2 separate regions of the Homo sapiens genome follow, and region 1 is linked to region 2. Evidence: fine-mapped expression QTL. Tissue or cell type: whole blood. Region 2 holds a variant in brackets; the other region holds the start of a gene. All regions are shown on one strand. Distances are between the middles of the regions.

Evidence for each region. PIP is the estimated chance that this variant, and not a neighbour inherited with it, causes the effect.
Region 1: it holds the start of MAML2, and the variant in region 2 is fine-mapped to the expression of MAML2 in whole blood (TOPMed, PIP 0.95).

The regions. Positions count from the first base shown.
Region 1 is chr11:96,338,369-96,346,529 of GRCh38, reverse strand. MAML2 (mastermind like transcriptional coactivator 2) reads left to right here and starts at 3,335. Exons shown (of 5, transcript NM_032427.4): 1 at 3,335-5,147. The coding sequence starts at 4,635. MIR1260B (microRNA 1260b) reads right to left here and starts at 5,092; the gene lies at 5,004-5,092. RefSeq lists silencers at 3,152-3,341, 4,459-4,718, 6,971-7,265.
Region 2 is chr11:96,258,594-96,266,795 of GRCh38, reverse strand. All of the region lies in intron 1 of MAML2 (mastermind like transcriptional coactivator 2), which reads left to right. Among named protein-coding and RNA genes, the nearest start is that of MIR1260B, 79 kb to the left of the region's middle. RefSeq lists enhancers at 7,951-8,000, 8,041-8,130. The variant G/T (reference allele first, on the strand shown) is at 3,401.

The DNA of each region.
Region 1 (8,161 bases), 80 kb before region 2:
ATCGTGAAAATGGCCATATTGCCCAACGTAATTTATAGATTCAATGCCATCCCCATCAAGCTACCAACGACTTTCTTCACAGAATTGGAAAAAACTACTTTAAAGTTCATGTGGAACCAAAAAAGAGCCCGCATTGCCAAGTCAATCCTAAGCCAAAAGAACAAAGCTGGAGGCATCATGCTACCTGACTTCAAACTATACTACAAGGCTACAGTAACCAAAACAGCATGGTACTGGTACCAAAGCAGAGATATAGACCAATGGAACTGAACAGAGCCCTCAGAAATAATGCCGCATATCTACAACTATCTGATCTTTGACAAACCTGAGAAAAACAAGCAATGGGGAAAGGATTCCCTATTTAATAAATGGTGCCAGGAAAACTGGCTAGCCATATGTAGAAAGCTGAAACTGGATCCCTTCCTTACACCTTATACAAAAATTAATTCAAGATGGATTAAAGACTTATGTGTTAGACCTAAAACCATAAAAACCCTAGAAGAAAACCTAGGCAATAACATTCAAGACATAGGTGTGGGCAAGGACTTCATGTCTAAAACACCAAAAGCAATGGCAACAAAAGCCAAAATTGACAAATGGGATCTAATTAAACTAAAGAGCTTCTGCACAGCAAAAGAAACTACCATCACAGTGAACAGGCAACCTACAGAATGGGAGAAAATTTTTGCAACCTACCCATCTGACAAAGGGCTAATATCCAGAATCTAAATGAACTCAAACAAATTTACAAGAAAAAAACAAATAACCCCATAAAAAGTGGGCAAAGGATATGAACAGACACTTCTCGAAAGAAGACATTTATGCAGCCAAAAAGCACATGAAAAAATGCTCATCGTCATTGGCCATCAGAGAAACGCAAATCAAAACCACTATGAGATACCATCTCACACCAGTTAGAATGGCAATCATTAAAAAGTCAGGAAACAACAGGTGCTGGAGAGGATGTGGAGAAATAGGAACACTTTTACACTGTTGGTGGGACTGTAAACTAGTTTAACCATTGTGGAAGTCAGTGTGGCGATTCCTCAGGGATCTAGAACTAGAAATACCATTTGACCCAGCCATCCCATTACTGGGTATATACCCAAAGGACTATAAATTATGCTGCTATAGAGACACATGCACTGGTACGTTTATTGCGGCACTATTCACAATAGTAAAGACTTGGAACCAACCCAAATGTCCAACAATGATAGACTGGATTAAGAAAATGTGGCACATATACACCATGGAATACTATGCAGCCATAAAAATTGATGAGTTCATGTCCTTTGTAGGGACATGGATGAAGCTGGAAACCATCATTCTCAGCAAACTATCACAAGGACGAAGAAACAAACACCGCATGTTCTCACTCATAGGTGGGAATTGAACAATGAGATCACATGGACACAGGAAGGGGAACATCACACTCTGGGGACTGTTGTGGGGTGGGGTGAGGGGGGAGAGATAGCATTAGGAGATATGCCTAATGCTAAATAACGAGTTCATGGGTGCAGCACACCAGCATGGCACATGTATACATATGTAACAAACCTGCACGTTGTGAACATGTACCCTAAAACTTAAAGTATAATAATAATAAAATTTAAAAAAAGAAATAAAAGAAATTATAAAACAAACAAAAAATCTGAGTGTATTTGTCCCCATTTCCAAGCTAACAGGATTGGTGAAAATAAAATGGACTAAAGTAGGCTATCCTATAGGGAACTAAATTGCAAATAAATCCAGTATTGAGATGTTTGCCTTGATTTTGCCTATTTCTATCCATAGCTCAGTTTGAAACGACCATATTCGTGAAATGCCAGAGTTTGTTTAGATTACTGAAGGTATATTATTTGAGACCTCAAATCCAAATGACTTCCAAATTAGGATACCCAGAATATTTTTGGTCCTGACTGTTGCAGTATTATGCTCACCTTAATTTAATCTTCATAATTGAAAATAAGCAGAATCCACAATAAGTTTTTTTTTTTTTTTTGGAGACAGAGACTCACCCTGTTGCCCAGGTTGGAGCGCAGTGGCGTGATCTTAGCTCACTGCGACCTCCGCCTCCTGGGTTCCAGCAATTATCCTGTCTCAGCCTCCCGAGTAGCTGGGATTACAGGCGTATGACACCATGCTCAGCTAATTTTTGTAGTTTTAGCAGAGACGGGGTTTCACCATATTGGCCAGGCTGGTCTTGAACTCTTGAACTCAGGTAATACACCTGCCTTGGCCTCCCAAAGTGCTGGGATTACAGGCGTGAGCCACTGTGCCTGGCCAGGATTGGATATTTTAAAGGTTGGATCACTTGAAAATGGGGGAACAATGATCTGTGTGAGATCTATTTGGTTTCTATTATTAAACTTCTTGAAACTCAGAGCCAGGTGCAGTAGTGGTGAGTACCTGTAGTTCCAGCTACTCAGGAGGCTCAAGTGGGAGGATCACTTGAGCCCAGGAGTTCAACTCCAGCCTGGGCAACATAACAAGACTCCATTAAAAGAAAAAAAAAAAAAAAACTTTTTGAAACTCAGCTGCTACACATTGACTTTCCTCATTGTATATGTGCACCAGGTAGCTAAGGATACTTCAGGTCTTATATTTGGTTTTTCATAGGCAATCATGCATTCCCAAAAAAAAAGCGTTTTTTTCTAGAACTGGTATCGATAATTGTATCATTCTCATAAAATATTTTATTTATCCCAACTGATTTGCCTGTGATCACCCAGACTCACTTATCCAGAGACACACAAATGGGCAGGCAGGTAGACAAACGCTACACCTGCCTGCCCTTTAGGAGCTAACAATGTGATTACCTCTCCTCTCCACGCGCAACCCCTTCCGCCCTCAACACACACATTCATATCTTCCTTATTCTATTAATGAACATTTCCTCGGTGCTCACACAGCTCGTGCTAGGTTGCTCAGTGGTGTCATTTACAATATACTGAAAAATGAAAATGATATCCTCAGCGGGGCGTAATGTAGGGCTGAAAGGGAAAACACATTCCTGGCCCGGAATTTCTTAAACATTTAGAGCTGGTGAAATGGTTGTGTAGAGGTTGGGGAATTTCCCCAGCCTTCCCCGCTTAACCGAGTCTGATGCTGAGCTGAGCCAGGGCAGCTGAGATGCGCAGGGCTTGGGATTTACCTCTTCAGCCACTGGGAGGCCCTCTGCGTTCCCCTTTCCCCGGTGCCTGGCTGCGATTACTCACTCGCGCAGTGGCACCAGCCTTCCACCAGGGAGCCTCGAACGAGCTCTCCCGCCCTCTCCCCGCCCCCCCACCCCCATCTGCAGCTTGCTGGCTCTCTCTTTCTCCTTCTCTGTCTCACTCTCTCTCTTTCTCTCCCTCTCCTATCGGAGCACAATGAAAGCCTGTGTATCGCCGTGACTCCGGGCGCGAGCCAGTGTCAGCAAAGCGGCTAACAACAGACGAGAAAGAGAAAGGAAAATACAAGCTACTTTTTTTTTCCATCTATAAAGCGGAGCAAATACAGGAGATAGAACCAGATTGCTTATTGCGAGTCCAGACCCTCAGATCCACTGGCCGGGGATGGAATGTACAAAAGTGGACAGAAAAGTGGCTGGACATGACTCGGTGCAATTTGCTGGAAGTTTGTAAGTTTGACCATCGTTTGTAAATTACTCTCGGAAGAGTTTGTCTCTCTTGATACTGTATTAGAATAGAGCCGGGGGTGAGGAATAGAAACGTAAGCGGGAAAGAAAAAAATGTGTTGAAGGATCTCTCTCAGTGGCTAGCGACTTAAGATTGCTTTTCATTTAAGGCTAGGAAACCTTAGAGGGAGTGAGGATTTTACCGGTGATTGGATTAGCTGAAGAAAAAAGCATGGTCCAAAAGTCCAATTACTGACATTGTTAACAGTTGAAAAGCTGTCTCCCTCTTTTGGGAGAAGACAACATCCTACAGTACCCCAAAGAGGAGAAAACACCGGAGCGAAAGGAAAGGGAGGAAAAATTAAAAGCCAAAAGACAGTCTCCCTTGATTTTTGCACATTTTGAACAGTGACTTAAACATCTTCTGAAACAGCACTGTTTTGTTTTGTTTTGGTTTTTTATTTAACCTGAGGAAAAGTCAAGGCTGCTGGTTACATAGACATGGTAGAAATGTGTTTCTCTGCAGAAACATCCCCATAAAGAATTGTCGGAAACAACTAGGTGAGGGGGAGTCCTCTCTATTAATACCTCTCTCAATACCTTTTGCTGTGTGTTTCTGTCTCTTGCTGGACAATCCCTGAATTCTTGATCTAACCCCCAGATCGTGTGTTTACAAAGTACCTAGTGGCTCTTGTCAGCTTGGTGGAGGAAAAAAAATCCACCAACTCTGTCCAACTTCTCCAGAGCTGTCAAATGCAATTAGAGTAAGTTAATCAGGGTTTGTTTCCAACTTATCCTCCCCCCAGTTGGTTTCTATTCTTTCTCCCCACCCTCTTTTTACTAACTCCCCTCCCCCACAACTTCTCCACGGCTCCCCCACAACCTCTGAAGACCTCTATTCATGTGGCCCTGAACACTGAGCTCACATTGTCAAAAACAGACTTGCCTGCAATAGCCAGCAGTAGCCTCTTTCCACCTCACCATCCCAGAGGCAGCAATCATTGTGTCCGGTAAGATGGGGGACACAGCGCCCCCGCAGGCCCCCGCAGGAGGGCTAGGGGGGGCCTCTGGGGCGGGGCTCCTTGGAGGGGGCTCAGTCACCCCGAGAGTGCACAGTGCTATCGTGGAGCGCCTCCGGGCTCGGATCGCTGTCTGCCGCCAACACCACCTGAGCTGTGAAGGACGATATGAACGAGGTAGGGCCGAGAGCTCAGACCGGGAAAGAGAAAGCACCTTGCAGCTCCTGAGCCTTGTACAGCATGGCCAGGGGGCAAGGAAAGCTGGCAAACACACCAAGGCCACCGCCACTGCTGCCACCACTACAGCCCCTCCACCGCCCCCTGCTGCCCCTCCTGCGGCCTCCCAAGCAGCAGCAACAGCAGCCCCACCGCCCCCACCAGACTATCACCATCACCACCAGCAGCACCTGCTGAACAGTAGCAATAATGGTGGCAGTGGTGGGATAAACGGAGAGCAGCAGCCGCCCGCTTCAACCCCAGGGGACCAGAGGAACTCAGCCCTGATTGCGGTAAGCACCTGGCTTTCTCATGGTTCTGGCTGTGGTCCTGTGACCTTTTGTGAGGGTAGAGTTTGCTTTGGCCTAAGGTAGAGTGGATGGCAATGAAAAAGGCCAAGATGTCACCTGACTACCTTAAAGGCCATTGGGTGTGTTCGGGTGGTTTCATGCGCCTACTCATCATGTTCTGTTGGTGCTCACTCCTGGGTTTTCCTTCGCTTATAGGATATTCCTTAACTGATAAGAAGCCTGAGTTTTCCAGAGGCTCTCTGGGGTCCACATCTTATAAAAGAAGAGGCTACCAGCTGGCAAGATCTGAGCCACTGAGGAAGGTTCTATCTCATGGATCCTCCAGCTTTGGCCAGCCAGCTCTGATTAGGCCCCCAAGCCATTTTTCAGCCCCAAAGCATTTATCAGCCCAGCTGGCCTTTATTAAAGCCTTTTTCTCCTTGCCCCATTTCCCCTCTCCCTTTTGAAGTGACCCCCTTCTTCTTCGCTTAAGAGAACATAAATGGTAAGCTGTAACAAATAGCAAATTCCCCGAATGTCCCCTCAGTCAAAAACAAAATTTGGGGAAAATATCCCAAAGAGAGACTAGGGAGGCACTGTTTCTTAAGAGGCCTACTCTCTGATTCCCTCTAGACTCTCTCACTCCTGAGCCACATCTCGATTATTTTCCCAAGCACTCCAGTCCAATCCAGTAATGCTCCCTTAGAGCATTCGTTAAGCAGACAGGCACGAAGCAGCTATTTACACAGATCATCATCCTAGGAAATACCTTGTCTTCAGCCACTCCTGGTGATAGGATATCAAACCCAAAAGTTCTGATTAAGTTTCTGGCTGGAAGTTCTTCCCCAGAGGCACAGACACACACCATCCCAGAGGAGTATCCCTTGGATCATTGATTCTCAGTGCCAGTCCTGGTCAGGTGACTGCCTGCTGTTTGCAGGCTTCCCCCCAAAGCTGCTGGACCAGTGGCCTCTGGTGGAAGGTAGAACCCTGCCCTGTGGCCCTGCAGGCTTCCTCCCTTTTGGAGCTCCATGGGACTTCTGGATTCTATGTCTGCTCCAGTTTACCCAGGTCAGCCCTAGCAAAAGCGACAGGAAATGGCCATGCAAGCCCCAAAGTACTCAAAAAGCCCAAAGGAGATGGTGCTATTGTGTCTAACTGCTCCTCCAAAGGAGCTTGATATTGAGCTCTCGGGAGAGGACATCCTCTGGCCAGACGCTCAGGATGGCTCTTTCTGGCTTCCCTTAATCCCTGGCCTGGGTCCATGGTGACGAAGACCCTGGGAATCTCTGGGGAGTAGGATGGTGCTTTTCTCCCCAGCCATAAGCACATTTACTTGGGCTACCTAGGAATGGGACTCCTTGAGGCCAGCTCCAGATGAAAAATAACTACCAACAGTTAAACTGCACAGGGTTTACAGTTTTACCCTTGAATAGCAGCACTAGCTTGTGGGGTTGTATTAGAGCTTCGAAGCCTAATATCCTTTTTCTACCACCTGCTCTATTCCCGCTTCTCCCTGGAATTCCCTAGGAAAGCAGTGGGAGGTTGTTTTGTGAAAAAAGAGATGTTAGGGTAAAGGAGGGGGGTAAAGAATCGCTCAAATGGAGAGAAGAATGAGGTTTGTATGTATGTGTGTGTCACCAGCATCTGTAGCCAAAAGTATCTAAATGCCTTGATTGTCCCCAGTAAATTTATAATCTGTCTGCAAGTCTCCCAATAATGCGGCTTTGTGTGCTTCACAGTCTCCTGGTAAGTGTTTCTGGGGATGGAACCGCAAGTGAGGCACCCGGCCCAACCCTGAGTGGAGAAGACTGATCTCTGCCCGGGGTGTCAAGGCCGGAGCGGGGCCGTGAAGAGCCACAGTGGGCTTCCCTTGTGGCCTTCACAGCCCAGCCTCTGAAGGAAAGGTGGCATGTTTGCCTCTGGCCTTGTTCTTTGAGCTTCTGCTTTTGTCCAACTTGGCAGTAAGCTGAGACAGCCTTTTTTTTCTAGGGTGTTTCATGATGGGAAATGAAACCAACTTTAGTGGTCGTGGTAACTTTACAGTAGCAATACCCATGCTGGGAGGGAAGTGAGGGAGCGGTGTCTGGCCCTTCCCGACTGAAAGCTTACTGCTGCAGAAGCCATAGCTGGCTGCTGTGCTACCTCTGGCCTAAGAGGGAATCTTTCTCTCTTCTAACCACCAGCCATCTCCTGAGACATTCCCTTAGAGGAGCTCCCTCTCCAGGTGTAGTGATGATGCAGAGAGGCACAGTTTAAGTTAGGAGGGTAAGGGATAGTATATTTCTAGTAGTTGCTTTTCACTGAGAATATGTGGCATTGCACGGGTTGTTGGAAATTCCCTCTCCATTTTAGCTGCTAAATTTGGCCCGTTGTTACTCAGCACGGTACTCAGAGATGGTGATGCAAGTGCTGTATTAACCTGATAACATTGTGTCCAAAGGGAGGCCTGGGCATTTTGAAGTGATTCACCAAGCCCATTACATTGGCAGGTCTCACTTTACTCGGGCTCCTCTTATTTTTCAGATATGCTATTAATTTTAAAAGGGCCTTTGTTCAGGGTGAGTGTCAGAATTTTTTCTTAATTTTATTGCTACTGTGTCCATAACCAGATTTATGTGACTTAGGTGTGTTGAATGTATAACTTTAATAGTTAATTCGTATGCCATAAGTGGCCATAAATGTCCTTTGGAGAAAGGGAGAGAATATTGATCATCTAAAATCAAAGATGTGCTGTGTCCTCAGATGAAAGCTTTGTATCCTGCATACCTTCTAGTACAATGCCTTGAAGACAGTGGGTAATATTTGTTGAATGAAGGTGAAAGGACAACTTCTGTTTGGTGGGATAATGTTGACTTTCATGGGTATTATACAGCAAGGAATATATAATGTCTGAATCCTTTCAATAGCCTTAAGTTTCAAGAACAATGCAAGAATAACCTCCAAGCCAGTTTTAATTCTGTCCACATTGACAGCCTAATTCTACAGCCCTTACTCAGCCAGTTTCTTCATTTAGC
Region 2 (8,202 bases):
TAACCACATAAGAGTAAAAGCCTGTCATAGCACAGGAAGCCTAGAATAAGTACATCCTACCATTTAAGCACCTAGGTCTTAATATGTCAGTTCATAATTAGATTCTACCTTTGTGGTCAGTATTTGAAATTGAGATATAGTTAATCAGTTAGAGAGGTAGTCAATTTCACTTTGTCAGTGAAGCTCAGAATCGCACCAATATGTTGTTTTTCTTTTTTTTTTTTTGAGACGGAGTCTCACTCTGTTGCCCAGGGTGGAGTGCAGTGGTGCCATCTCGGCTCACTGCAAGCTCCGCCTCCTGGGTTCATGTCATTCTCCTGCCTCAGCCTCCCGAGTAGCTGGGACTACAGGTGCCCACCACCACGCCCAGCTAATTTTTTTGTATTTTTAGTAGAGATGGGGTTTTACCGTGTTAGCCAGGATGGTCTCAATCTCCTGACCTCGTGATCTGTCCACCTCGACCTCCCGAAGTGCTGGGATTACAGGTGTGAGCCACCACGCCTGGCCAATATGTTGTTTTTCAAAGACTGCCGTCCTCATACAGACCAGCTTGGTACTGACAGAGGAGGTGAAATGGGAAAAGTTCCTTTGTCCCCCTCGCAGGGTGTACGATGGGGAAGTGGCTCGTTTCTTCAGTGCCCTGCTGCTCAGGCCTCTAAGGGAGCATACATACGGGCAGGCTGTGGGGCTCCAACACCAGGGCAGTGTCTAGGGGTGAATGTTTACAGCTTTTGAAGCCCCAGTAGGCATGTGTTACAGGGTGCTCTTTTAGTGTAGCCATCCAAAGGCAGCTTGTGTTAACTAGCTTAATTACACCCTCTACCTTGTGGCAAAGACAGAGGGCTTTCTGTATCCTGGGGTGCTTGCTTTGGTGTAGTGGAAGAATCAGATCACACGTGGGCTTGGAGAATGAGTGCAAGGTTTTATTGAGTGGAAGAAGCTCTCAGCAGATGGGGGAGCCATAAGGGAGATGATTTTCCCCATAAGTTGGGCCGCTTGGGGGCCGAGCGCTCCTCCAACTGCCCCAGCCAAACTCTGTGTTGTTTTGCCCGTCAGTGGCCTGCTGGTGCCTGCTGGTGAGTTCCACTCAACGTCTAGCCGCTTGTGTGTTCCTCTGCCAATGTGCTCCTCTCCACGTCCAGCTGCTTCTGTCTCTGCCTTGCTAGGGTCTCGGGTTTTTATAGGCACAGGATGGGGGCCTGGGTGGTCTTGGGAAATGTAGCATTTGGGCAGGAAAACAAAAATGCCTGTCCTCACCTAGGTCCGTGGGGGTGGAGTCCTAACCTGGGACCATGCCTTCCTCTACCCAGCACTTCCCTTCCCCTCTTCCATATCATTTCTGCTGAGCTGTCTTTCACCAGTGGTTGTGTTCCTTCTCTTTTGAACAGGACTTTCTCTGTGCAGACTTCTGTACTGTTCAGTTACATCATAAGCCATATTCTAGTTATTCACTTGAAAGTTTACACAACCTGCAAGAGTAATTCATGGGGAAAATAACTCTGTTGTTTTTCCATCACATTTTCTGCCTCTGCCAACTCTCCCCTCGTCCTCCCCGCGCTAAAGCCAGCCACTTTTCTGTCCATTTTCACAGGCAGAAATGCTTTGCATCGTGCCTGCTTGTACTGGCAATTGCTTGGGCCTCTTCTGTAGCTTGTCCTCTAGCTGTCTCTACCACATTCCTAATGAAAGTCAGCTGACACTATGTATTTGTGTACAAAGAATAAATAACATGGTTTAGTTATGTAACAATTTGAAATGCCTTGATTTCTTTAGGTTAATGTTAACAGCCTCAGTATTGGTAATTCCTGACCGTCTGCTAACTTTTGAAAGCCAGAAGGTCTTGCTCTTCAAACTCTTCTCCTCACAGGATGTAGTGGGCTTATAGCTGAAGAAAGGCATATCTAGGGTATTAAATGTGTTCTTGCAAAACTAAATAAGTACCCTATGCCGAAATAAGATATGCTGTGTGGTAACTAGTTTTTAGAGTATTTGAAGCAATGATTTGTACTCCTTTCAACGTTTTCATTTCAGGAGCATTTTAAGAAGTGGTTTGGGGTCATGACTCCTACTTCAATACAGTAGTTAGTACAATTTGTAATGCTTAATTTGTGGACCCTCCGTTATTAGCTTAGAAGACATAACTTGAAACCAGTACGGTAGAGTGGATGAGGAGACATTCCAAGATGGTTAAGATAAAGCTAAGGAAAATGGAAATGCCTTGCCCAGCGTGACTAAGAGGGTCAGGAATAGAACCTGACTCCTAATAGAACACATTTTTGAGTGAGTGGCACAAAACAGGACATGTTAACAATCAGAACTCAAGTCCAGCCGTAAAACATATTTGTATACACTGTTGCATATTGTGTTCAAATGGGTTATTTTTGCCTCAATCTGTTCCAATGCACATTCCTGCCAGAGGTAGGTATTGGTTTGGAGATAATTTTTTCTCCAGCAGCATGCAAAAGTCAGGGTTTCCAGATACTAAACTGAATGGGGGTCTGGGCCTTATAAAAAACGAACACATGGATGGGTTCCATACTTTGTAACTAATTTGGCAGCAGCTGACATCTTAGTTTGTGAGGGGGCTTTACAAAAGTTACGGACCTGTAACCTCTGCATTGGGCTAGGCTCCCCCAGTTAGGTTACTTGGGGATGAATAGTTGCTGAGATAATTGTGGGTAAATGTAGAACAATAGCCCAAACAAGAGACACTCTGGCACTCTAGTCCATACTTGGCTTTTAGGCTCTAAAGAAGTGATCTGGGTCTTTTTTGAATTATAACTATAACCAACATTTATTTCAGAGTGATTTCTACATATTTCCTTAATTTTCCCTCACCAAATCCCCCTAAGGAGGTCTGTTAATACACTAATGCTATAGATCTTTTATAAGGGCACAGACAGGCCCAGGAAGATGGTGACATGCACAAGGCTACACAAATAATAAATAAGGATTGGGAAACATACATTTGGGTCTCTTGACTCCAATTTGGTTGCTCTTTTAATGATACCAACCACTTTGACCATTCAAAGGGGTCATTGTGGTCCCACCAGCCCCCCTCCATACCTGCTGAGCCCAAGTACAGACTCAAAAGGAATTTCCCTTGTGGCTAGAGGATGTACTGTATAAAAGATCAGGATCCCATTTCACCTTTCCTTTCTTTCAGAACTATCTTAGCTTTACCTTTGGATAAATGTATGTCATTAGTGGGAGATCATCTGCCTCTTAAATTCTTATCTTTCACAATGGACACCAGACTTCCTTTTAAGGTGCTATGTGTGACTCATCAGTAGTTTAAAATTTTGTAAGATACATGAACATTTTCTGATTGAGAAACACTTTAGAAATGCTGAACATATTATTGTGAAATAACAATGACTAATATTGTTGTTAAATTGTT[G/T]AATTGTAATAGCTTTAACCTTTTTTGATTCAGTCTGTTTATTCCAAGTTATCTTGCCTTTTAAATGGCTTTGAAACATTGGCAAACAATGCTGGTCTCTCTTACAGATCTCAGTCCTGCTTTTAACAATGACAGGCAGTGTATTCAAAACATACCTGAATTGGACATGACATTTTGGGGAATATTTTGACTAGTTTGTAATAAAAGAAAAGTTGAATAAATCAGAATTGATTAAAGAGGTGATAGTATACCAAATGCTATGGTGAGCAAATTACTCTTGAGAAATGCATTGTTTATATAGATATTACAATGTCATGCTGTTCTCAACCCAATCAACTATATAAACTGGAGTAGAAATTCCTGAACTTTTTTTTAACTCCCGGGGAAGCAGTTTACTATTAGCAATTAGTATAATGATTACTATCAAATCTTGCCAAAGAGAGATCAAGAAAAACATGGGTGCAAAGTAAACATGACTCCTTTGATTTTATTAATGGATGATAGGATTGAAAATAAGCCAGAAGGTGCAGAAAGCTGAGATTATAGTAAAGCAGGCAAATATGGCACTTGCCATGTTTATCTACAAGCTTGCCATTCTTTGGGCAGTAAATGAAACAGAGCATTAAAACAAGGATTTAAAAAATGGATTAAATTATCCCAGCACTTTGGAAGGCTGAGGTGGGCGGATCATGAGGTCAGGAGATCCAGACCATCCTGGCTAACATGGTAAAACCCCATCTCTACTACAAATACAAAAAACATTAGCCAGGCGTGGTGGCGGGTGCCTGTAGTCCCAGCTACTCGGGAGGCTGAGGCAGGAGAATGGCATCAACCTGGGAGGCGGAGGTTGCAGTGAGCTGAGATTGCGCCACTGCACTCCAGCCCGGGCAACAGAGCGAGACTCCATCTCAAAAAAGAAAAAAAAAAAGATTAAATTTTAAAAATAAGAACAAATGGTGACTGGAGGGAAAAACAAGAGGAAAGAAAACGAGCAGTAATCAAAATCTTGGGAGAATTATTTTCAGTTTGATTTTGTGAATTTTATTTATACAATAAATAATAATGCTAACTGAGGGTCAAATTAATCTATGAGAATGTTATAAATGACCTTAAATCAGCACATTTGGAGAAGTAAAAAACTGAATCTGTGACTGAACTCTGTCTTCATTTATCATAAAAACCGTACACAATTTTTAATCTTCCAATGTCTCAGTGACACCTATTTCCAGATTAGTGGTCCTCGAACTTTAGTACATGTCAGAATGTCCCAGAATGCTTGTGAAAAATACGGATTTCTGGGTTCCATCCTCAAATACTCAAGTTCAGTAGATGTTGGTTGGGACCCAGAAAGATGCAAGGACTTCAGGACATCTTTTAAAAACATTAATATGGAGAATAATGAGCCAGGAGGGAAATAACTCTTTGAGTCAGAGAATGCCACTGATTTTAGGAATTCTGACCGTATCAAATACAAATTTTAGAATTTAAATATTTGTTCATGGTGATATATTAGAAATCTAACATAACACATATTGGTGAAAAAATAATTATAAAATTGTCTGCAGTTAGGTAACTTGGTTGTTTATAATCAAACTGTTTAGACAATAACATTGAAATAGTTACTGAATTGAACACTTCCTTATTTTATAGACGAATAATATGGAGCTCAGGTAGTCAAAGTAATTTGCACAATATCATGTCACTAGCTAGGGACCAGGCAAGATATTTGCTCTTTCCATTCATTATGTTGTGTTCCTTTCAAAAGTCTCTATAAGTCTCCAATATTATCAGAAGGACTTGGGGTAAGCCAAGAACCCCATTAGACGATACCTTCGGCTCATGTAGGAAAATAAGGTTATAGGCTTGTATAAACATAAATATACTTAACAAAAGCAATTCTACGGTTATAGCTATAGAATACACCTTGTCTTTCCTCTCAATAAATGTCATGAACCACTGGATGGAGTGTCTTAGTTTGTTTTCTTTTGCTTATAACAAAACACCCAAAACTGGGTAATTTATAAAGAAAAGGAATTTATTTCTTACAGTTATGGAGGCTGAGAGGTCCAAGGTTGAGGGGCTGCATCTGTTGATAGCCTTCTTGGTGGTGGGGATTCTGTGGCACAGGGCATCACGTGGCGGAGGGGGCTGAGCGTGCTAATGTGCTAGCTCAGGTCTCTCTTCCTTTTATAAAGTCTCCAGTTCCCCTCCCATCATAACCCATTAATCCGTGAATGGATTAATCCATTTATGAGGACAGAGCCTTCATGATCCAATCACCTCTTAAAGTTACCACCTGTCAATACTGCCAGATTGGAGATTAAGTTCCAACATGCGTTTTGGAGGGGTCATTCAAACCATAGCATAGAGTAATGATGGTAAGTTGTTTCAGGCATAAAATTTGAAATAAATTATGAGGCTCCATGATATGCTATATTGGTTTTACCTTCAGAAGAATATTTAGTTTCACTCAGGTTTTTCAAAGCTACGCTGTCCCCCAAAAAACGAAACAAAACAAAAAAACAACCTTTTTAAGAGTTGATGGCTACTCATTTGATCTGCCTCCTCTGCTGAATCAATTAGGAATTTTTTTTTTTTTTGCCTGCAAATAACAGAAAACTGACTAACAGTGTAAGAAATAAAGTGATTACAAATAGGGATTTTTCCTCCCACACACACTACAATATTTCTGGATATAAGGTCATTATGGGTATTAGTTTAGTGACTCAAATAATATCACTGCTCAGGGTCAGTTTGTCTGTGATTCTCTATGCCTTTCTCTCATAGTCTTAAACTGCAGGTATCACATTGGCAGACTGGAGGGAGGAGTGAGGGCAGCCCTGGTGTTCCTCTTATCAGAAAAGCTGAAAGTGTCCCAAAAGCACACCCCTCTCCTATCAGATGTCCATCTTATTGGCCGGAACTATGCTGCACCTCCATTCCAAGAACAAGAGACACTGAAGAAAAAAATGTATTGCTTTAGCTTCTAAAAAGGAGACGGCCAAGGGATAAGACAGTTGAGAAGGGTGTGGCATGACAGAGTGTCTGCTGCTCTCTTGGTTTTAGAAGGAACTCCTGTTATTCCAGTGTCACCTGAGTACAGACTGGGTCTCATGGGGCCACTCCAGATTCAGACATTCTTCTTTTTTCTTCTGCTCTACCACCATCCTTCTAGAGTCTGCCAGTTTGCTTCCCCCCACCCCATCCCCCAACACCACACAGAGTGACTCCACTCCCACACACACAGGCATTCACACAGTCCAACCTTCATTTTTAGGAAGTCCTGGAACTGACTGGCCTTTAGGAAGGTGGCACAGGTGTTCCGAGGATTATAAAATGTTTTATTGAATAAGTTTTCTCTGTGGATGTCCAGGAACCTTTCCTCCCAGCCTGTTTGAAAGAATAATGATTAAATTAGAACAGGACATACTGATGTTTAAAAAAAAAAAAAAAATCACAAGTCAGTATCTTGAAAGTATATCCCAAGGCTTTTTTTAAGGTAACCTTTATACTGAACCATAAAAAGATTAAAGACACCTTCCTCTAGAATCAGGCCCTGTCATTCACATTGAGATTGTTCAGAAAAAGAAGAGTTGACACCTTTACTGAAAGGAGTCAAGGTCTTGCAAGCAGGAAACTGGTTTTATGACAATTCCCTGCCTTGCTAGGTAAGCTGGTCCACATCGAGATGACTCTCTCCTTGACTTCTGACTTACTTTGTGTTTGTTGGAGGAATCCTATGAGTCATATTTAGCCTTTCCAGCCTGATTGAGTTTGAAGGAGCCACTGGATTATTGCATACAATGGATTTTGCAAAGAGTTTTCTCCAGCATACCCACAGGAGAAAGGCAAGTCGGTTCATAAATGGAAATTCTAGACAAACAACTAAGCTAAAGACACCTCTCTGTATAAATGCTTCCAGATGGAGACAAGTTTTTCACTTCACTCTCCACAGTTTTCACTTTAAAGGGTTATTGAGATGGAAGCATTGGAGCGAAGCACATTAGAATCACTTGCCCCACCTTGCCTTCTGAGGAAGAATGACTTACGGTTGCAAGGGGAAAATGCTGGCTAAAAAATAAATCTTGGTCTGTTCCCCATAGTCTATCAACACATGCTTTTCAGAAGAAGAAAAAGAAAAAAAACATCTGGAAAGAATAGGACTGAGTTGGTAGAACATCTTGAAGGGGGCTGGCCTTCACTTAGAAAATTGAAAAGACATGCAGATAAGCCATTAGGAAGAAGAGTCTGTGGTTGTTAAGCAGAGTTACCTAAAGAAGGAACTTCAAGATACAAGTTTAAAGCAACACTCTGTAATTATTTGTATTATAGTATAAGGTTGTTAAGTTTGTCTTCACCCTTTGAAAGAGTTCTGAACAGAGTTAGTGTTTTCGTAAAAAATCTCAGGGCCTACAAAAAATGCCATTTGGCCTCCACAATAAGTTGCTCCCACCCAGAAAGTCCTCTCCCTTCTACAGCTTCCTGTATAAAAGGCTGGGATACCAACATCTGCCTGAAGCAAAAACACATGTATTTTAACCAAATAAATAAAAAGGAACAAAAGTCTGAGTACATCATGCTGCTCATAGTCTTACTGGCTGACTCCCATTGGCTCTCTCACTGTTGTTATAATTTCGTTTATGCCCTAGGCAGATGGGCCTCTCTGCTCATAGGTGATTTAGAATCTGCTGATAGTGGCTGGAATGAAGCATGGAGGATCTGGCAACTTCTAAGCACACTGGCTTAGACCACTGTATTCTTGGGCTTTGATGTTTACTCCATATATGATTCCCATCAATGGT